3 linked regions of the Homo sapiens genome follow. The protein of the gene in region 1 purifies or fractionates together with the protein of each later gene. This does not show direct contact. Each region holds a gene or a part of one and is shown on either strand. Other genes may lie near its edges.

The links.
Region 2: the proteins of NR2C2 (region 1) and KLHL7 purify together in Homo sapiens (affinity purification with mass spectrometry; 2 studies listed by BioGRID and IntAct, with this or other methods). This does not show direct contact.
Region 3: the proteins of NR2C2 (region 1) and DNMT1 purify together in Homo sapiens (affinity purification with western blotting; 2 studies listed by BioGRID, with this or other methods). This does not show direct contact.

What each region holds. Positions count from the first base shown.
Region 1 is NC_000003.12:14,953,965-14,957,618, reverse strand, and holds part of NR2C2 (nuclear receptor subfamily 2 group C member 2), read right to left. Parts: intron 1-3,654. UniProt on the Homo sapiens protein: Orphan nuclear receptor that can act as a repressor or activator of transcription.
Region 2 is NC_000007.14:23,174,958-23,178,426, reverse strand, and holds the end of KLHL7 (kelch-like protein 7), read right to left. Parts: 3' UTR 513-3,469; downstream 1-512. UniProt on the Homo sapiens protein: Substrate-specific adapter of a BCR (BTB-CUL3-RBX1) E3 ubiquitin ligase complex. The BCR(KLHL7) complex acts by mediating ubiquitination and subsequent degradation of substrate proteins. Probably mediates 'Lys-48'-linked ubiquitination.
Region 3 is NC_000019.10:10,149,849-10,153,502, forward strand, and holds part of DNMT1 (DNA (cytosine-5)-methyltransferase 1), read right to left. Parts: intron 2,000-3,654; coding exon 1,902-1,999; intron 1,698-1,901; coding exon 1,550-1,697; intron 121-1,549; coding exon 5-120; intron 1-4. UniProt on the Homo sapiens protein: Methylates CpG residues. Preferentially methylates hemimethylated DNA. Associates with DNA replication sites in S phase maintaining the methylation pattern in the newly synthesized strand, that is essential for epigenetic inheritance.

The sequences.
Region 1 (3,654 bases):
CATCGTGAGACCTTATCTCTAAAAAAATAAAAAATTGTAATACAGACCATAGAATGATAGTAGTAAATCATACTTGGTTGGCCTTATGTGACAGGTTTTATAAGAAATTCTTTCAAATCCAAGTGGATCAATATCACCCCACCAACAACAAAGAAGCAGAGAACAGAACAATGACTTTGAATTAGCTCTTCCAGGCTCACAAAGTGATAGCTAACTAAACCTTGCAACCAGAGTTTCTTTAGTGAAGTAGGGCACAGACTTCACTGCAGTGAAAAGCTGGGCTCTGGAAACACCTGAATCTCCAGTTTCAGATAACAATGAACAAGTCCTGGGACAAGGAGACGCTGCCTTCATTAATAGGAATGAGTGAGGCTGCCTTTCCCTCCACAATCAACTGATTCAAATCATCCATATTTATGTGTTACATGGCTTATAAATATAACATGCAAAGTATCTACTGTCTTGGTATTTCCTTAGCTAAACAACTATATTGGGTTCTGAGGCTCAGGCACTAAGCTCATCTCTCAGATACTGACCATATGAGGTTATAGTGAAGATTTGATCTTAAATGTGTATACGTTGTGCTTGGGACATAGAAATGCAACACATGGTAGCTATCATTGGTGAAAGGTGATGGTGCCACTTTTGCTTTCTCAAAGAAATCTGAAAGTAACTCAAACTGTAAAATGTGTATTATGATTAGGAATAGGTCTGATTTTCACATAAGGCTCACATGAAATTTAACTATATACACATGGAAGTAGTGTAAACACACACACAGCCGGGGCGGTGGCTCATGCCTGTAATCCCAGCACTCTGGGAGGCCAAGGCAGGCGGATCACCTGAGGTCAGGAGTTCGAGACCAGCCTGACCAACATGGAGAAACCCTATCTCTACTAAAAATACAAAATCAGCCAGGCATGGTGGCATATGCCTGTAATTCCAGCTGTTTGAGGCTGAGGCAGGAGAATGGCTTGAACCTAGGAGGCAGAGGTTGCAGTGAGCTGAGATTGAGCCACTGCACTCCAGCCTGGGCAACAAAAGTAAAACTCTTGTCTCAAAAAATAAATAAATAATAAAAAAACAAACACCCACACAAAGCATTTGTAATTCGCCCTGTTAAACTGTACAACTGGGCAAAACAATGGGGCTAAATTAGGACAAAATCTTACAAATATTTAAAAATAAACCAATACCTAATAACTACTTGCAAAATACTACTGGGCATAGAACTCTTGATAGGTACAAGGCATTCAGTATAAGTCTAATTATTCTGATTGTTAGAAGTCTGTTCATATTCATGGGAAAATTAAAATGGAAGGATTTAGATAGCCTGAGAGAGGATAAAAAATAAGAAATACATAGCTTGAAACTTGCAATCATAGATCAAGACTTGAAAGTAGAAAATGAAATTCAAGTGGCAGGTTTAGTGTAATACAAATGTTCATCAACAGAAAAGATACTCACTGGGATGCCTCTAAGGTTAAGTTTAGGTATACTTCCTGTCAATGGAAAGCCAATTATTTATTTAGACTCCAAGTTTACTTAGCTTTAGGGTCAGGTAATTTCCTTTCCATTGTGACCCTCCATAGGAAAGTTGTTTCTTCCATATTCAAAGCAACTGTAAAAAAGTGCAGCAATGATATGTATATGGTAGAAGTAGCAAGGCTGGGTGAGTGACTAGTAGGGAAGAGAAGTGGCTTTCACATAAATGAAGTTCTTACATATTTATAGTATCAGAGCAGTTCTACAATTTTCTGTGTTGACACCTCCCCTAAAAAAGTCACTACATACTGTGGATGATTTTTTCTTATCCTACCAAGAGCCCAAGTGTAAGGGTGATGTGGACTTTCTTCATATCTATCAGTAAGAGCCAGGGTAGATGGATGGAAGGAAAGCAGGATAAATTCTCTTGACATCCACAATGTGCTTTAAATCAAACTAGGCATGATTTAATCCTTAGCATACCTTCTGAGTATGTAATATTAGCTCACCAATGAAGATGGAAAAAACTGAGACTCAGCACTTGTAACTCGTTTCAAATCATCCAGCTACTAAGCGATGGAGCTAGGATTCCAACTGAGGCCTCTTTGACTCTAAAATCGCAACATTCCCTCTAGATCACAGTGCCCTTCAAAATAATTTCCCAGAAAAAAGGAAGTCAAGGAGAGAATGAAAAAAAAAAGTGACAGGAAAGAATTATCTAAGGGAACAAAAATTGCTTACATCAATAAGCTAGATCATTTAATAACTGATATACACAACCACTAAGTCGTAATATGTGACTTATGTTTCAGTATTGCTAACAGAAATTTCTGAGGCTGCTCCACCCAGGTAGTACCATGGCAGTTCTTTTAGAACTTTGAACACATTCTTCCCTTAAAACTTAACCTACACAATAATCACATTAATTAAAATAGTGAGAACAATTTTACTAAGTAAAACTTTTTACTTAACTACAACACGCAGATACAAAAGGGCACAAACCAGCCAGGCTCGGTGGCTCCTGCCTGTAATCCTAGCACTTTAGGAGGCCGGGATGGCTGGACTGCCTGAGCTCAGGAGTTCAAGACCAGCCTGGGCAACATGGTGAAAACCTGTCTCTACTAAAATACAAAAAATTAGCTGGGCATGGTGGCACACGCCTGTAGTCCCAGCTACTCGGGAGGCTGTGGCACGAGAATCCTTTGAACCTGGGAGGCGGAGATTGCAGTGAACCAAGATCGTACCACTGCACTCCGGCCTGGGCGGCAGAGGGAGACTCCATCTCAAAAAACAAAAAAAGGCACAAATCGTAAATGAACAGTTTGATGAATTTTCACTAACTGAACACACAGAACACACATGTAAATGCCACTCAGATCAGAAAACAAGACATTACCAATACCCCCAAAAGTCCCTCTCACACCCCTTCCCATAGTCAATAACTTCTCTTCCCTCTCCTGACTTTTATACTACTGGCATTACTTTATAATATTATTGCACTGTTTATAATACACTTTTTGGTATGTCTGGCTTCTTTTGCCCAACATTATTTTTGTAATAACCATGAGAAGTGAATCCATTTTCACTGTCGTACAGTATTCTAATGTACGACTATGCCCAATTTATTTCTCCATTCTATAGCTGATGAACACTTAGATTGTTTCTAGTTTGGAGTCCTTATGATTAGTGCTCCTATGAACATTTTCACACATGCCTTTTGATGTACTGCTTTCTTTTCTTCGTTTGAAAATTTTACTATTTTTAAAAATTAACTGTTTTACTTTTATCTATTTTTAATTTTTATTCTCGAGAAAGTACATTGTTTATTTCTTTAGAAAAGACATATTATAAATTTATTTTATTTTTAAAAATCTGTATTATATTAAATAAGTCAACAACACAGTCTAATTATTAGCCTTTCCAGTTAAAAGCTGATATATACTTTGTGACATCTGCTTTTAGTCTTGGTAAAGCAATCAATTAAAAAATGATTTTTCAATTCCAGGGTTAGTCATCTTATCAACCTAATAAAAAGATGCATCATTACAGACACCATAGTGGTGGGACAGGGGACAAGAACGAGTGTGGTACAAATGACATATCCAAAATGTTCTAGAAATAATACCTAATCAGATTCACTATACAACAAATACACTGGGGGAAATGCAG
Region 2 (3,469 bases), on another chromosome or scaffold:
GATCTTGAACCCCATTTTAAATCTGTTATGAGAGAGGGCGTAAAGCTCTGGAGAGTAAAAAGATTTCTAGTTAATAAGGGCAACATTTCAAACAATTTCCCAGCACAGACTTTTTTAAATAAAATTTTTATTTTTTCTAAAGTAGTGTGAATCATCTTGGGAAGGAGGAAGGTGAGAAAGATAAAAGTGGATTCAAGCTTTTTGAAGTCTTTTGAGGCAACTGTAAAGAGGGAGGAGGCTATTTAAAGGAAGGATTTATCAAACGCTGAATGATGCCACCTGTAAAATGTCCTTTCATTAAAAGAACAGATTATTTGGACTTAAGGGTCCAAATAATGACTCTCAGTGAGAGCTGGTTTGGTGCCATGTGGGAGTAAATTGGATTTTCTCAAGTCTTTGGTATAACCTTAGAAAGCAAAATTTCGTCTAAATACCTCCTTTACCCATGCATATGTAGCAAATCCAAAATTTTTGCTGTTAACAGTATATATGGCAAAAGGAATATAGACTGCTTGGTGGAATAATTGTTTATTAAACGGCTGATTTTGATTTTGTTAGCAATATTGTCATGTCAAAATAATTCATGACTTAAAATTTTCATGGGATGATATGTCAAGTTTTTGCCAGCTGGACCACAAAGTCACAAGTATATGTTTTGTTTTGTTTTTTTCAAATAGCAACAATTTTTTTAAGATGCTAAACTTTTCTGACCGAATTGTGATTTTTGAAAGCATAAACTTACTTTGTCATCAAAATAATATCATTGCAAAGGATATAACATTAACTTATCAAATGTCTACTAAAAAGCAAGCAGAGCACTTTACAGGACAGGGAGTTTTGGGCAACAAAATAGAAAATGTGCTTGTCAGTATGGTGAGTGTACTTTTACGCACTATCCTGATATTGACAATTCTGTAGAAATTTCCAAGGCAGAAAAAGACACTAATTGGGAATTATGATACAGATTACTAAGGAAAAAAACCACTTCATTATAATCCACATCAAACCTGTGTATGTATTTACTATAGTGTGTTCTAGTCAATTGACATAGCCTAAAAGGAAATGCTGGTGTACTTAAAATATCTTAGACAGGTACTGTATATTCTACATAGGAGATTGTCAAATTATATAGCTATATTGTAATATAATAAATGGATATTTCACTCTCAAAAAATTAAACTAGCCACATTTTTCAATAGAGTGCAAAATTGAAAACCCTACTAAAAATGTTCAGAATAATCAAATCTAGAGACAGAAAGTAGATTAGTGGTTGCCTAGGGCTATGGTGTTTGGGAGGTTTTCTGTGTTGAACAGCATCTCCCCAAATTCATGTCTATCCAGAAGCTCAGAATGTGTCCTCGTTTGGAAATGGGGTCTTTACAGGTGTAATTAAAATAAGGTCATACTGGATTGCGGGCCCTATGTTGTCCTTTTTTTGTTTGTATTTTGCTTTGAGAAGGTGTCTTGCTCTGTCACCCAGGCTGGAATGAAGTGGCGCAATCTCAGCTCACTGCAACCTCTGCCTCCCAGGTTCAAGCAATTCTCCTACCTCAGCCTCCTGAGTAGCTGGGACTACAGGTGCACACCACCATACCTGGCTAATTTTTGTATTTTTAGTAGAGACGGGGTTTTGGCATGTTGTCCAGGCTGGTCTCAAACTCCTGACCTCAGGTAATCCACCCGCCTCGGCCTCCCAAAGTGCTGGGATTAAGGGCGTGAGACACAGCGCCCAGCTTTTTTTTTTTTTTTTTTAATGAGACAGGGTCTCAGTCTGTCACCCAGGCTGGAGTGCAGTGGCACAATCATAGCTCACTACATCCTTGAACTCCTGGGCTCAAGTGATCCTCCCACCTCAGCCTTCTGAGTAGCTAGAACTGCAGGTATATACCACACCTGCTAACTTTTTATTTTTTTGTAGAGACAGGGTCTTGAACTCCTAGCCTCAAGTGATCCTACTGCCTCCACCTCCCAAAGTGTTGAAATTACCGGCCTGAGCCACTGTGTCTGGCTCCTATGTTGTCCTTATAAGAACACCATGTGAAGATACAGAGACACACAGGGAAAAAGCCCATGCGAAGACAGAGACAGAGACTGAAGTGCTGCAGCTACAAGCCAAAGAATGCTGAGGATTGCTGGCAACCACCAGAAGCTAGGGGAGAGGCATGTGTGGTTTCTGCTGCAGACCCTCCAGAAGGAACTAACCCTGCTGACAACTTGATTTAGGAGTGCTGGCTTCCTGAATTGTGAGAGAATAAATTTCTGTTCTTTAAAGCCACCAAGTTTGCAGTAGTTTGTTATGGTAGCCCTAGGAAATACAGGGGCGTTGGGGGAAATAGGGAACCATTGCTAATCAGTACAAGGTTTCTTTTTGGGGTGATGAAAATGTTCTAAAATTGTGGTGATGGTTGCGTAACTCTGTGGATATATTAAAAACCACTGAATAATACATTTTTTTTTTTTTTTTTTTTTTTTTAGTCTTGCTCTGTTGCCCAGGCTGGGGTGCAGTGGCTTGATCTCAGCTCACTGCAACCTCTGCCTGTCAGGTTCAAGCAATCCTCCTGCCTCAGTCTCCTGAATAGCTGGGATTACAAGTGCACACCACCAGGCCTGGCTAATTTTTGTATTTTTAGTAGAGACGGGGTCTCATCATGTTGGCCAGGGTGGTCTTGAACTGCTGACCTCAAATGATCTACCCACCTTGGCCTCCCAAAGTGCTGGGATTACAGGCGTGAGCCACTGTGCCTGGCCTGAATAGTATACTTTAAATGGTGAATTGTATGGTATGTGAATTATATCTCAATAAAGCTGTACATTAAAAAACCCTACACAAATAGAAATATACCTATCATTATGTTTTTCCTAATTCCTTTTTGATTTAAACATTTTTAGGGTTTAAGACTATTATAACCTCTATATAAAGAAAACTGAAAATTAAGAGACACTGGTTCACAAATTCTAAAAACAACCATTACCTAAAATACTTGAAGAACAAACTGAGTGGCCTATTTTAAGTTAAAAAATATTTAATATTATCAGATAAAAACATTGATTGTGACAGCTTTACATGTTTCATTCCATACACAGTGAAAAAGGCAAAGTATTACTAGGAAGGAAATGAGTAGTTGGGTTTGTAAAAGATTTATTGATCACATAAAAGCAATGAATAGGAGATGACATATATCTAACTCATGATTACAAAACTTTTAGAGACAACTAGGTTAAATATTTCATGTTTTGGCTAAGGGAAAAGAATTCATGATCTCGTTAAAGAAGTTCAAAGTCAACACTGATATTGTACAACTACCAGTGCTTTTCTAATGATCTAGAAATTTGCTATAAATAGCTTTACTTTTTGCTAGTTAATCACTTACTATGATTGGGTTTTATTTAACAGTGAGGACTAAAGAGGCAGAATCCTTTTTTAACCACTGGATAAAACAGAGACATAAATTAATGATGGGTGCTAAGC
Region 3 (3,654 bases), on another chromosome or scaffold:
AAACCTTGCTAGATACAGCGGTTTTGAGGAATCATCTGGAATAACAGAGACACAGTCCCCCACTTCCAGGGTTTCCGCATCAATGCACACCTTCTTATAGTAACTCTTCTTCCCATCAGTCTGAAAATGAGAGCATAAGTTCATGGAGGATCATTCTGAGGGTCTTTGCTGGCCTTGACTTGCATGGTCCTCTGTTACTTAAAGTAAGACATGACTCGATTTCATTAAGAAGTCAATGAAGAGTTGCTGCTAAAGAGAACATCCTGTTCTACAAGGGCTTCAATAATAAGAAAAAAGAAGAACATCCACCTTCCTTGGCCAGATGCTGTGGCCAAGGGCATCCATGTCCCTCCCACTTCTGCTCTGCCACTCGGGTCCCAGGATTTGATTTTAACAGCACAGCCCACAATACCTCACCATGGTCTGTAAGGCCACAGCCTGAACCCTGACCCCTGTCCTGCCCATCATCCCCTGGCTCAAGCCACTCCAGCTGCAGGGGCCTCCTTCCTTTTCTCCAACAAAGTAAGCTGACTGCCACCTCAGTGCAGCTCTCCCCCAGGTCGTGTGGCTAGGTCCTACCTGACCTTCTCCATCTCAGCCCAGGTGTCACCTCTGCAAGGCCTCGTGGCCCCAGCCTCCTCCCAGCCCCCTACCCTGCAGAGGCACTCATGCCATGCAGCAGTACCCATGTCTGTCCTCCTGCAGGGGCTCAGCCACGGCCCAGGCAGCCAGCAGGTGGCAAGCCTCATAATTAAGTGAACTGATTGCATCTTTAATTTATGGACGTCAGAGAAGCAACACAGAGGATACTCACTCCTCTCTCTCACACTGTGGTAAAGGAACTGACCTTCAGTGAAGCCAATGACCACAGAACGGATGGGAGGCCATCTGTTGGTGCCCCAAAAAGACCCACCCCACACCAGAGGGGGCTGTGACAGCTCTCTTGGAAACAAGCTATGAGGGGCCAGGCACAGTGGCTCCTGCCTGTAATCCCAGCACTTTGGGAGGCTGAGGTGGGTGGATCACTTGAGGCCGGAGTTCGAGAATGGCCTGGGCAACATGATGAAACCCCGTCTCTACTAAAAATACAAAAAAAGTTAGCCTGGCATGGTGGTGCACGCCTGTAATCTCAGCTATTCAGGAGGGTGGGGCAGGAGAATCGCTTGAACCTGGGAGGCAGAGGTTGCAGCGAGCTGAGATCGTGCCACTGCACTCCAGCCTGGGTGACAGAGCAAGATTCCATCTTAAACAAAACAAAACAGAAAAACAAGCTATGAGGGCTCACCTGCCTGATGCCCCTAGAACTGTGTCAAATGCCCATTTTGGGACATTAGGAGAACTGAGCCTTGTGGCCACACAAAAATGCCTTGCTGGTACTGAGCCATGGAACATGGTCTCTTGGCCAGTCCCGCTCTTCTCAGGGGCAAACAGACAGGTTTCTTAGTGCCGGGGCTCAGGCTGCCTGAGAGGTCAGGTTGGCGAGATACTAGAGGGCAACCTGCTTATTGGGAACATGGCAGTGAGCTGACCAAGGGGCTCCAAGGGTTACCTTGACGGCTTCTCCGACCCAAGAGATGCGATTCTTGTTCTGTTTCTTCTTCTTCCCCTGGTGCATTTTTTTGGGTGACGGCATCTCTGGGATGTTATCATCGACTTCCTCATCGTCATCTGCCTCCTTCATGGCCATATTGGGACACCTGCAATGTCACTGGTTATACCTAAGGCCCCTTTTCTAAGTAAGACCAACCGGGGCTGTTTTCTTCATAACAGGGACAGGTCCTGAGACAATGCCTAACGAAGGAATCCTGGTGCTGTCCCACACATGCAGGCCCTTCTCCACAGTGCATCTGCCACCAGCTGGCAAGTCCTCTGCCACAGGAGGAAGACTCGGCCTGACCTACCTCCGCTCTTGGCAAGCCTGCTTGCTCCGTCCACTGCCACCAAATTTAACCATGTCCTTGCAGGCTTTACATTTCCCACACTCAGGCTGCTGACACACCTAAAAAATGGCATTAAAAAGGCAAATCAGGGCTGGGCACAGTGGTTCATGCCTGTAATCCCAGTATTTCAGAAGGCCGAGGCAGGCAGATCACTTAAGGTCAGGAATTGCAGACCAGCCTGGCCAACGTGGTGAAACCCCATCTCTACTAAAAATACAAAGATTAGCCAGGCATGGTAGGGTGTGCCTGTAATCCCAGCTACTTGGGAGGCTGAGGCAGGAGAATTGCCTGAACCTGGGAGGTGGAGATTACAGTTAGCCAAGATCACACCACCATATTCCAGCCTGGACGACAAGAGTAAAACTCCATCTCAAAAAAAAAAAAAAAAAAAAAAAAAAAAAGGAAAAAAAAAGGGCAAATCACACAGCCCTTACTAACAATGAGACAAATGATGCATTAAGACTTTTAGGTCTCAAAAAATTAAAAAAAAAAAAAAAAAGTGAGTCACACAGCCCTTAGCAACAATGAAACAAACGGTGAATTAAGACTTTTAGGCTGGGCATGGTGGCTCATACCTGAACCAGTACATTGGGAGGCTGAAGCAGAGGTAGATGGATCACTTGAGTCCAAGAGTTCAAGACCAGCCTGGGCAACATATTAAGACCCCCAACTCTACAAAAAATTAAAATTAGCCAGGCGTGTGACAAATTCCTGCAGTCCCGGCAACTCAGGATGCTAAGGCGGGAGGACTGCTTGAGTTCAGGCATTCAAGACCAGCCTAGGCAACATGGCAAAATCCCATCTACAAAATGTTTTTTTTTAATTAGCTGGGCATGGTGGCGTGCACCTGTGGTCCCAGCTACTTGGGAGGCTAAGGTGGGAAGATCACTTGAGCCCAGTAGGTTGAGAATGCAGTGAGCTACAATCATGCCACTGCATTCCAGACTGGGTGACAGAACGAGACCCATCTCAACAACAACAACAACAACAACAACAACAAAACCAAGACTTTTAAAAATGTGCCTATTTGGCTGGGTGCAGTGCCTCATGCCTCTAATCCCGGCAGTTTGGGAGGCCAAGACAGGAGGACCACTTGAAGCCAGGAGTTTGAGACCAGGCAAGGCAACACAGCAGGACCCTGTCTCTACAAAAAAAAAAAAAAAAAGCAATATTCAACCTCATTAGAAATATGGTAAGTGAGAGAAATAAAATTCCCTTCCCATTCTCCAGATGGGTTAAGAAGCCAGATAGGTGGTGTGAGGAAAGAAGAACGCACACTGCTCAAATGGTAAGTTGGTAGAACCATTTTGGAGAGCAATCTTCTAGATCAAAGTTAAGAATACACACCCACAACCCAGCAACGCTACTTCTAAGCAGATACACTCGCGAGAAGCTTTGCTCAAGGATGCTGCCACATATTTACAATACTGAAGAGGTGCCTATCATTGAGGAGTAAGTTAGGATATTCATTTAACAAAATACTACAGAATATTTAAAATGAAATAACTAGATCTACCAGTATCAACACGTAACAGTTACACAAATAAAAACAAATGATTTTAGGGCTGGGCACAGTGGCTCACACCTGTAATCCCAGCACTTTGGGAGGCCGAGGTAGGTAGATCACTTAAGGTCAGGAGTTTAAGACCAGCCTGGCCAACATGGTGAAACCCCATCTCTACTAAAAATACAAAAAAAATTAGCCGGGTATGGT